Homo sapiens: one gene and its partners. The protein of the gene in region 3 interacts with the protein of the main gene of each other region in a pairwise test. Each region holds a gene or a part of one and is shown on either strand. Other genes may lie near its edges.

The links. The genes of interacting proteins can lie anywhere in the genome.
Region 1: the proteins of PAIP1 (region 3) and RND1 interact in a two-hybrid assay, tested with the Homo sapiens proteins (one large-scale study listed by BioGRID).
Region 2: the proteins of PAIP1 (region 3) and TMEM132D interact in a two-hybrid assay, tested with the Homo sapiens proteins (one large-scale study listed by BioGRID).

The regions. Positions count from the first base shown.
Region 1 is NC_000012.12:48,859,758-48,862,870, reverse strand, and holds part of RND1 (rho-related GTP-binding protein Rho6 precursor), read left to right. Parts: intron 1-752; coding exon 753-862; intron 863-1,739; coding exon 1,740-1,874; intron 1,875-3,113. UniProt on the Homo sapiens protein: Lacks intrinsic GTPase activity. Has a low affinity for GDP, and constitutively binds GTP. Controls rearrangements of the actin cytoskeleton. Induces the Rac-dependent neuritic process formation in part by disruption of the cortical actin filaments.
Region 2 is NC_000012.12:129,071,226-129,075,025, forward strand, and holds the end of TMEM132D (transmembrane protein 132D precursor), read right to left. Parts: coding exon 2,650-3,800; 3' UTR 501-2,649; downstream 1-500. UniProt on the Homo sapiens protein: Regulate neuronals morphology via inhibition of the WAVE regulatory complex (WCR), a complex that controls F-actin cytoskeletal dynamics.
Region 3 is NC_000005.10:43,540,078-43,543,577, forward strand, and holds part of PAIP1 (polyadenylate-binding protein-interacting protein 1), read right to left. Parts: intron 3,040-3,500; coding exon 2,927-3,039; intron 1-2,926. UniProt on the Homo sapiens protein: Acts as a coactivator in the regulation of translation initiation of poly(A)-containing mRNAs. Its stimulatory activity on translation is mediated via its action on PABPC1. Competes with PAIP2 for binding to PABPC1.

The sequences.
Region 1 (3,113 bases), on a different chromosome or scaffold from region 3:
CTCCTTCCCCAGGGTGGAGGGGGCAGGCTCAGCTCCTAGCATTCTCCCATATGGGACCACCTGGGTCTGCATTGCCTATTTCCCTTCCAACGAAGGACTCTTGCTCTAGCCTCTAAATCCCCAGCCATCGGTGCTGCTGTCTTTGAGACTGCCTTCCTGAGATGTGGGGCGGTCAGGAGGTACAGCTTTCCTTTTGCCCTTTTCAGTGTAAGCCGATCTGGGTGGGTGGAGAAGTGGGGCACTGAACCCTTGATTCTCTCCCTCCCCTGCTAGCCTCCTAAAGTTCTGACCCCATGGAAAAGCAGCAGGCAGGTTATGTAACAAGGAGGTTTTTCTCTTCACTGGGGAGACCCTGGAGCAGAAGGGAGTGAAGTTGGGCAGCAGGCAGGCTCTAGAAGAGAGAAGCCCTGAAATAAGTGCTGTCTCTCTGCAGGGCTGGAAGCATCTTCTGGGACTCAGAAAACTAGTAGATCTCCAATTAAGCCTGCTGTAGGAGACCCAAACAGGGCCAAATTATACTCCACCCACTTTATTTTGTCTTCTTTCCCTTTTTCTGGACTAAGGGGGATGATATTCTTTCATGACCTTCTGGCAGACAGTCAGGTCCCAAGCTTCCAGCCGCAGTACATTCCCCCTGGGAGATGGGTGGATCCTCAGGGATTGAGGATGGTATTCCCAGGGCTTTAGGGCTTAGGCCTATTGGGGAAGGAAAACACCATGGCTCACCATCAGCTCTTTCTGGCCTACACCAGGATCTCCCTACTACGATAATGTCCGTCCACTCTGCTACAGCGACTCGGATGCAGTATTACTATGTTTTGACATCAGCCGTCCAGAGACAGTGGACAGCGCACTCAAGAAGGTAAGACTAGATCAACTCTCTAATCTCTAACTCAGCATGAGGACCAAGAAGGAATCGGGACCTTGTCATGAATGCCCTCTTGTATAACATCAAGAAATGGAAGCCAGGGAAGGAAGAGATTTGCCCAAGGCCACACCATTAGCTACAGCTCTGGGACTGGAACTTGGGTCTCCTTACCCCACTGCCTCCCGCCCTTTTTGTTATCCCATGCTGCCTTGCCAGAGGCCCCGCAAGGGAGGGTGGTATTGAAGACTCAGGAAGCAGAGGACGGAGAGTCAGAGAACCTTTAGGTGATACGGTATGAGGGTCAGGCATGGGACCTTTTGGAGGCAGCTTCTATAGACCCTGATCCCAGTCCCACTGAGAATGGGCAAGCCAGGCAGGTCTGAGCTGAGCTGCTGGTATGAAATGCTTAGGTCTGGGCAGATCCACCAATGCTGAGGAGTCCTAGGAAACCTTGTGTATCTAGCATAGTATAGAAGATGCTGGGATCATGTTCTTCCCTTGAGAAGAGACTGGTTGGCTTCCCCCTGGCATTCTGGACTTGTGAGGCCCTTTGGGGTGAGGGGGCAGATCCATGCCTATATGGTTGGCAGAGAGTGGGAGGAGAATTGCCCTTGTGCCCTCTCTGGTGACTGAGCCATAGACTGGGGGAACAGGCTCCTGGGTCAGCACTCTGGGGGCCCCAAAGGCCTCATGGGCAGGAAAATGATGTAATTAGTGCAACGGTGATGCTGTGACTCAGAGGGAGGACTGGGCTGGTGATGAGTGAGGTGATGTGTGTGACGTTGCCAGCCAAGCTTCTCCTGGTATCTGTCTGCCACTAACTCTCCTTCCTTCCTCCTTCTCCTACCCTTCTTCCTGCTCCACCCCTCAGTGGAGGACAGAAATCCTAGATTATTGTCCCAGCACCCGCGTTTTGCTCATTGGCTGCAAGACAGACCTGCGAACAGACCTGAGTACTCTGATGGAGCTGTCCCACCAGAAGCAGGCGCCCATCTCCTATGAGCAGGTGTGTGCGCATGCAAGTGCATGTCGTGGGGTGGAGTGAGGAAGGCTAGAGGCAGACAGCTTGAAATATGGCCCTGGCTCAAATTCTTCCACTATGGCAAGAGAGAATTGCTGTTATAATTAGCAAATGAGTCACCTGGAGAGAGGTGGTGGGCACCTGCTTACCCAGATGTATGCTGTCAGTTAGCAGGTGAGTTATTCCTGTGTGTGCCCACATTTCTAAGATTGTATTCTGACCACCTGCGTTAGAATCATTAGAGGTGTTTGTTAGAATTTCACACACACAAAAAAAAGAGGCCAGGTGCAAGGTGGCTCATGCCTGTAATTCCAGAACTTTGGGAGGCTGAGGCAGGAGGATAGCTTGAGCCCAGGAGTTTGAGATAAGCCTGGGCAACAAAGCAAGACTGTCTCTACCAAAAAAAAAAAAAAAAAAAAAAAAATAGCTGGGTGTGGTGGTGAGTGCCTGTAGTCACAGCTACTCAGGATGCTGAGGTGGGAGGACCGCTGCTTGAGCCCAGGAGGTTGAGGCTGCAAGGAGCTGTGATCATGCCACTGCACTCCAGCCTGAGTGACAGAGTGAGACCCTGTCTCAAAAAAAAAGAAAAGGAGGAGGGGCACTGGGTGCGGTGGCTCACGCCTGTAATCCCAGCACTTGAGAGGCCAAGGCCGATGGATCACTTGAGCTCAGGAATTCAGGACTAGCCTGGCCAACATGGCAAAACGCTGTCTCTACTAAAAATACCAAAAGTAGCTGGGTGTGGTGGCATGCACCCGTAATCCCAGCTACTCAGGAGGCTGAGGCAGGAGAATCGCTTGAACCTGGGAGATGGAGGTTGCAGTTAGCTGAGATTGTGCCACTGCACTCCCACCTGGGCGACAGAGTGAGAGACTCTGTCTCAAGGAAAAAAAAAAAAAAAAAAGGCCAGGTGTGGTGGCTCATGCCTGTAATCCCAGCACTTTGGGAGACGGAGGCAGGTGGATCACTTCAGGTCAGGAGTTCAAGACCAGCCTGGCCAACGTGGTGAAACCCCGTCTCTACAAAAAATACAAAAAATTAGCCAGGTATGGTGGTGCACACCTGTAATCCCTGGGCAACAGAGTGAGACTCTATTTCAAGAAAAAAAAGTGTGATCTGCCTAGGTTGGAGTGCAGTGGCACAATAGTTGTTTATGCAGCCTTGACCTCCCGGACTCAAGTGATCCTCCCTCCTGTCTCCCTAGTAGCTGGGACTATAGGTATG
Region 2 (3,800 bases), on a different chromosome or scaffold from region 3:
TTGCATGAATATAAGGATTCCATGCATCTTCTTGTTTCGTAGAATTGTCTTGGGGCTGCAGTTGATAAAGGAATCTACAATCAACTTTTTAACCCAGTCCAGAGTTGTTGTATGTACACTCGAGACCCAAAGGAAGGACAGAGAATTTTCCTCACCTCAGCCCAAAAGGAGGCTGGAATGCATGCTTGCCTGCCACAGTTTCCACTTACTTACCACCATCAGTCAGCAGGCTTTTAGGAGAGAATTGCACGTGTGATTTATTTGCAAATCCTTTCAGGTCCTGGAGGAGAGATACTTGGTACACAATGCACTTTGTCATCACGTGTCAACATCCCCTCAATGCAGGGAGCAGCACTACACGATGTAAAGGTGGAACTGGATTGTGCTGGGATCCTTCAATCAGCATTTCATTTAGAGCTGCAGCATTTGCAGAGCCATTTGCAATTGATGCCAGCCCCTTGGAGGGGGTCAGCGTGTAGAAGACAAAGGACAGCCATAAAGCCACTGAATGCAAACTTTATATTTACAGTCAGTAAGTTTATAAATATATATTACATTCTTACAATCTACAGTACATTCTACACGCAGATGGATTTGGAAGCGGGCAGCGGCTGCAGTATTCAACAGAACATGACACAGGTAAGAATGGAAAGAAATATGAGGACGTTACTGAAAGCAAAGGATTCTCATTGAAAAGGGGTGACAGCTTAATCACCCAACCAAACAAGGTAGGTAAGCTTGCGGACAGGAGCAGGTGACTTACTGGCTGCAGAAACCTCAGTCTCAAGAGCACCACAGTTGCAGGGGAGAGGGCTAAGGTTGGGAGGGTAAACTGGTGAAATTTACACACACATGATCTAAAGAGAATTCAATTCTATGGAGAGGAAGAAGGAGTAAAGACACACACTCAAAATTACAGAGATGAGATGGAGAGGAAGCAGGGAGAAGATAGGTTCAAAGGAGGAGAGAGATACAGAGACAGACACACAGAGAGACTGGAAAACAGACAACTGAAGAGCAGAGAGAGAGAGAAAATGACCAGAGGGAAAAATAGAAGATCAATTCAACAGCACGGCCTCTTCTGCCCACCACCCGCTGCCCCCGACCATCTTTTGCAGGATCCTATCTGGCTGGCAATCACCCAACACACCATTCTCTACCTTGGAGTGAGCGTGAGATGAGGCAGGAATTCTCTGATGTATCCTTGCCCCCATCTTCATAGGCTTCATAAGTGAAGGGATTCAGGGATATCCAGAGTCATGGCTGGTCTTAAGCAATGCTGAACCTTTCGGGGCTGACTGCAGGACCAAGTGCTTGCAAACCTGCATCTTCACCACATGCACTGATGCCCCTTATCCCTTCGCACCTCCAAGATGAAGAAGGTTTCTGTGCTGTCCGGTGTGTGTGAGGCTGGGCTTCCTGCTGGATCCACCACTTTCACACCCAGAACCCCCCCAACTCCACACGCCCTGCACGTTCCACACAGGCACCCCGATTTGTCTCAACAGCCTCGAGGCCACATCTTTGGACAGGAGATCTGCCATGAACAGTGAAAGACCCATCCCAAGTGGCCCTGTTTTCTTTCTAGTAAAGCAAGGGAATGTATATCCCCTGGTATGGAATTCACCGTGACTACCGCCCATGCCTAGAGACCAGCCTCTTCAAAGACGGACGGCGTGGGACATATGCCCAGGTTGCGGGGGGAGCTTCTCTACAGAATGTCACTTGGGAGTTGACACAAAACCCAGGGGGAGAAAAAAGACCCAGCAAATACTACAAACTGCCCTCTCCCTCCCCCACCCACAGGTGACCAACGGCTTTGGGGAGGATGGCAATGCAGTGGAGGAATAGAAATGGATACATTGTGAACTTGATATGAATCAAAAGAGCGTGGTTCTTTGAACCTGATTCAAATTCTATGCCCAGTATCCTTAGTTTACAAATAAAGAAGTACCCTGAAGGGCTCAGAGGATTTGCGTCCATGTGTTTGTCCTTGGCATGTAGTTACAAAGGTATTTGTGGCCTGTTAGCCCACATGTTCCCTTTCAGTCCTTGTCAGCCACTTCCTTGGCCTGTCCATGATCTGAGACAGCTCTGGCCCAGCCTTTGAGAGACAATGACTCACAATCATGCCTCCCACAGCTGACGGCGGCACTGGACTGCCTGTGATCGCGCTCACAGCAAGATGTGCTGCTCCAGTTTCGATGACACGCTTCCTCCCATTGATCCATGGATGCGATCCATGGATGCTCCACCTGAGTTGTACTTTTCTTCCATAGTCTGCAATATTGAATATTGGAGCCATGTGGATTTTACAATATCCAAATTGCTTTGATTCGAGAGAGAGAGGCTGTTCTTTCCTGGACGCTCTCAGACGCTCAGTGATTCAGAACTCGTTTTTGTTTCAAGTCTTAAAAATCTTGCCATGCATGATAAACCTCTTAAGCAAGACACTGTACTCTGGAATGTGTGCGTCGATGCGGACTCCAGGCCTCGCCGCCGAGCCGGGGTCATTGGCTGAGGCTGTATGGATAGTGTCATCCTTATTTTGTCCTGCTGCTTTGTTTCTCTTCCGGGGGCACCGTTGCTACACATCCTGGAATTAAAGGCTGAAAGGTGAGTGAGAACCAATGTCTGTGTGTGTCTGGCTTACACATTTTCATGTAACCTCTCCATGTAGTTGTGCAGCTCTTTGCAGTCCCCAGGGTCCAGATCCTGGCAGACCCACTTAATGTCATCCTCGCTACTCATCACGATGGAGTTCCTGGTGGGGTACTCGTCGTCTGAGGAGACGGCGGTGAAGGTGGTAAATTTTACCCTTTTCCTTTTTGAGGTAGGGGATGTTGGGGGCTCACTTTTCTGATCTTTCCCATCAATGATGATGGGTCCCAAAGGTTTGAACAGCTGCCCATTGATGCTTTTTTGGGAGTTTGTGCTGAGGAGATATTTACTTTCCTCGAAATCCATGCCCCTGTCAATGGCAGTGATTTGCTCATCTTGCGAGGAGGCAAAGTTGATGTGATTCTCCAACAGCTCTGTCCGGTTGCTTAACCCAACCCAGTCATGAGAGTGACTCATCCCTTCCTGCTCCTCGAAGGGAACCTGTTTGTGTCTGTATTTTAATGCAAAGGTCACACAGTTTATCAAGAAGACCAAAATGGCCAAACAGAAGACTCCCAACAAAGCATACATCCCAATTTCTAAGTCGCTCAGCCCTTTGGATGCCTGCATAAGGTCATTCCCATCCATTTCCCCATTGCTTCTGGGGAGGTCCACCTGGGCTGGGAAGCTGGTGAGGTCGCTGGGGATGGTCTGCAAGTGGCTGTTGTCATCTAAAAGGCTTTCCTGGCCTTTCTTCTTCTGCAGGATGGACCTGTCTGTCGTGGTGCCCCGTCCCTCCATGAGTCCCATAGAAGAACTGCCATAGTACTGTCCTTCCTGACTCCCCCATTCCTGCGAGGGTTTTTTGGGCCTTCTGTCACTGACATTGTTTTCCATGTGAACCCCTGCCCCTGTGTGTCTGCTGTCACTGGTGTTGGGGTTAGCATCGTTTTGGCCAAATTTAACTTTGATGTTTGCCGTTCCAACAGCTAACACACTCTTCCGCTTGGATTTCTGGCAGGATTCACTAATAACCATTTCCACCTTGACCAGGGTGCCTTGTCCTTCTGTTTCCGCAGCAATGATAGGCCACTTGAATTTGGGGTCTTGGTGGATGGAGACTACCTTCTCATCCAAAGATGTGGCCATCAAGGAGAAGTCTTTCCCATCGTAAATATCCAAGGGCGTGACTGAGCCAT
Region 3 (3,500 bases):
AGTAATTGACTCTGGGTCAGTTTGCCAACCACGAAACCCCAGCACAGCTTACTGTGCTTACGTGGCCAATTCCAATGTTTACGAGGTATATTAACTGAGCAACATCTTCTGTTTAAGTCAAATGTGGTAAGATATTTGTTATCATCTTGTACATATTAAATTCCTCATCAGAAAAAAGTTGGGATATTTATAGATAGTACATTCTGGTTAATAATGGAAGAGATCAGTTAATTAATGCCAAATCAGTTATTTAAAAACACCTGTTGGCTGCTTTTCTGTTACAACTTTGTCGGTAAGAGTTGATGAAATAACTTTTTTTTTCATAAAATGCTATGACAGACTGTACGTTAGGATATGATTATGTACATGCAAACAAATACCTACATAATTGACTAGGTGAAAAGTCAAATTTTTAAGCTAAAGATTTTCAATTATAAAAGCAATGTATGTTTATTTTGGAAAGGTTAAAACAGAAAAAGTATAAAGAACAAAGTCACCTGCACTACTACTAAAAACAAGAGATAACTGCTGTGAAGGTAACTTCCGTTCCATCTTTTTCAAAGTATGTATATATTTTTTAAAGAGGTAGCAGAATTATGCTTTGCTTTTTACTTGTTAGCTCACTAGTATTTCTCTACATTATTATTGACAGGATTACAGTACTACAGAAGCACATATGGTGGGTAACAGTCAATGAGAAGAGTGGGTCTCAATCATAGCTATACAGTAGAATCACTTGGGAAGCTTTAAAAAACCATGTCCTAGCTCCACCTCGTCTAATTACACCAGAATTTCAAAGGGTTCAGACAGGATCTCGGCTTTAAGTATCTAGGTAACTCTAAGGCACAGCCGGGGGTGAGAAGCACTGAAAAATATGAGTGAGCATTCCTGGCGTCCTACCGCCTACAAGTACCCACTCTGAATCTTTACAGAAGCTATAATTTGTGTTTCTTTAATTATAAGTATGGTTAGATATCTTTTTATAACTTTGACATTTGTATTTTTCCAAACTGTATCTATATCTATTTGGCGCTATTCCAAGTATTTTCATTATTATTATTATTTTTGATACGGAGTCTGGCTGTCACCCAGGCTGGAGTGCAGTGGCGCGATCTCTGCTCACTGCAAGCTCCGCCTCCCGGGTTCACGCCATTCTCCTGCCTCAGCCTCCCAAGTAGCTGGGACTAAAGGTACCCGCCACCACGCCCAGCTTTTTTTTTTTTTTTTGTATTTTTAGGGTTTTTTTTTGTTATTTTAGTAAAGATGAGGTTTCACCATGTTAGCCAGGATGGCCTCAATCTCCTGAACTCGTGAGCCGCCCACCTCAGCCTCCCAAAGTACTGGGATTACAGGCATGAGCCACTGTGCCCCACCTATCATTTCACTTTTAATAAGTCTCTGACATATTTGGGATTTCAGCACAGAGAGTGAGATGGGAACTCATCTTTTTTTCCCAAATGACTATCCAGTTATGCTACCAGCACAATTTATCCTTTTTATCAAAAGCTTGAATTTTCAAGGGTCTCTGGGGTCTACTTCTAGAATCTTTATTCTGTTCCACTGCAGTTTAACCACACAATGGAATGCTTTGCAATCATTAAAAGTCACTTAAAAAACTAATGGACGAACTATAATAAACTTGAAGATAACCTTGTTACTGAAGACATCAAATTATAAGAAAACTAGTTTTCTCTAAATTAGCTTATAAATTGAGTATTATCTCCAAAATATCTAACATACTAGCAAGACTTGTGTAATTTCAAACACTGATTCTAAAGTTCATTAGACGAAACAAGCATAGCAAAGAATATTTGACAGGCTGGGCGTGGTGGCTCACGCCTGTAATCCCAGCACTTTGGGAGGCTGAGGTGGGCGGATCACTTGAGGTCAGGAGTTCGAGACCAGCCTGGCCAACATGGTGAACCCCATCTCTACTAAAAATACAAAAATTAGCTGGGCATGGTGGTACGCACCCATCATCCCAGCTACTGGGGAGGCTGAGGCACGAGAATCGCTTGAGCCTCAGAGGTAGAGGTTGCAGTGAGCCAAGACTGAGCCACTGCACTCCAGCCTGGGTGACAGAGCAAGACTCGGTCTCGGAAAAAAAAAAAAAAATCCCACAAAAGAACAAAAAACTAATTACCCTAAGATATTTTTAAAAATGATAGCTTTTGGCAGTGCAGGGTGGCTCATGCCTGTAATCCCAGCACTTTGGGAGGCTGAGGTGGGTGGATCACATGAGATCAGGAGTTTGAGACCAGCCTAGCCAACATGGTGAAACCCGTCTCTACTAAAAATACAAAAATTAGCCGGGCATGGTGGCGGGTGCCTGTAGTCCCAGCTACTGGGTAGGCTGAGGCAGGAAAATCACTTGAACCTGTGGGAGGCAGAGGTTGCAGTGAGCCAAGAGCGTGCCGCTGCACTCCAGCCTGGGAGACAAAGTGAGACTCCATCTCAAAAAAAAAAAAAAAAAGCTTTTTAATAGCTATTGTATGAATTGTATGGTAATAAAAAGGAACAGAATAAGTGATAAATGGAATGAAAATCCAGAATCAAAACCCAAATAATGCAAGTGTGATAAAAGTGGCAATTCAAATCAATAAGGAAAAATGGATTATTCACTTTTATTCTAATCTAAATAAAATTAGATCCTTATTCAAACCAAAGCTACCAAAGTAATAAGAATTACATAAGTGTTTATTTTTAAGATCTTGGAAAAGGAAAGATCTTTCTAAACACAAAACCAAATTCACAGACCATTACAGAAAAAAGACTGGTATACTGAACTATAAACTTCAAATATAATGCACATAAGAATAGGCTGCCCTATTCTTTCCTGCAGCTTTTTATAATATATGGTCTGAGGAATGGTCAAATTCTAGTATATTTAGAAGTAGTTTTCCTTTAATTTCACATTTACACTGACCTTTGAAGTAGCAATTGGCGGAAGTTGCCACTCTGTGGGCTAATTGTCAGATGATGGGACAGGTAATTACACAGGCGAGCTCCCATATAAGAGAAATTTGGGATAGATGTGGCCTTTTAAAAAGAAGAAAAGTGTTATATGACATAGGTACATCATTATTAATGTAAATACTTAACAGCAACATTCTAAAGAAGAAAAAATTGACTCCCCAAACTGACCATATATACAAGTCTTTTGTCATTGTTAGGCTTAAGGAAATTAAATTCACTTTCCCTCCCAACCTTACAGCAAGAACCACAATAAGTACAAAAAAAAAAAAAAAAAGAAAAAACCCATCAGTTACCTGAGGCTACCAGAAAGCGAAGAGATAATGTCTCCTGATGCTAACCCATTTTTTGCAGAAAACCTGTACATGTCCTCAACTGCACAGTGACAATTATGAATGAGAATACTGCCAAACTGTTGACCAGTGGGGCTTCTTGGGGCAGGAAAGCACAGACTTTTTAGTGTTTGGCAGTCCAGGACAAGATTCCCTGGCATTTTGCTTCATGACTTTGGACATCAGTAAACCTCC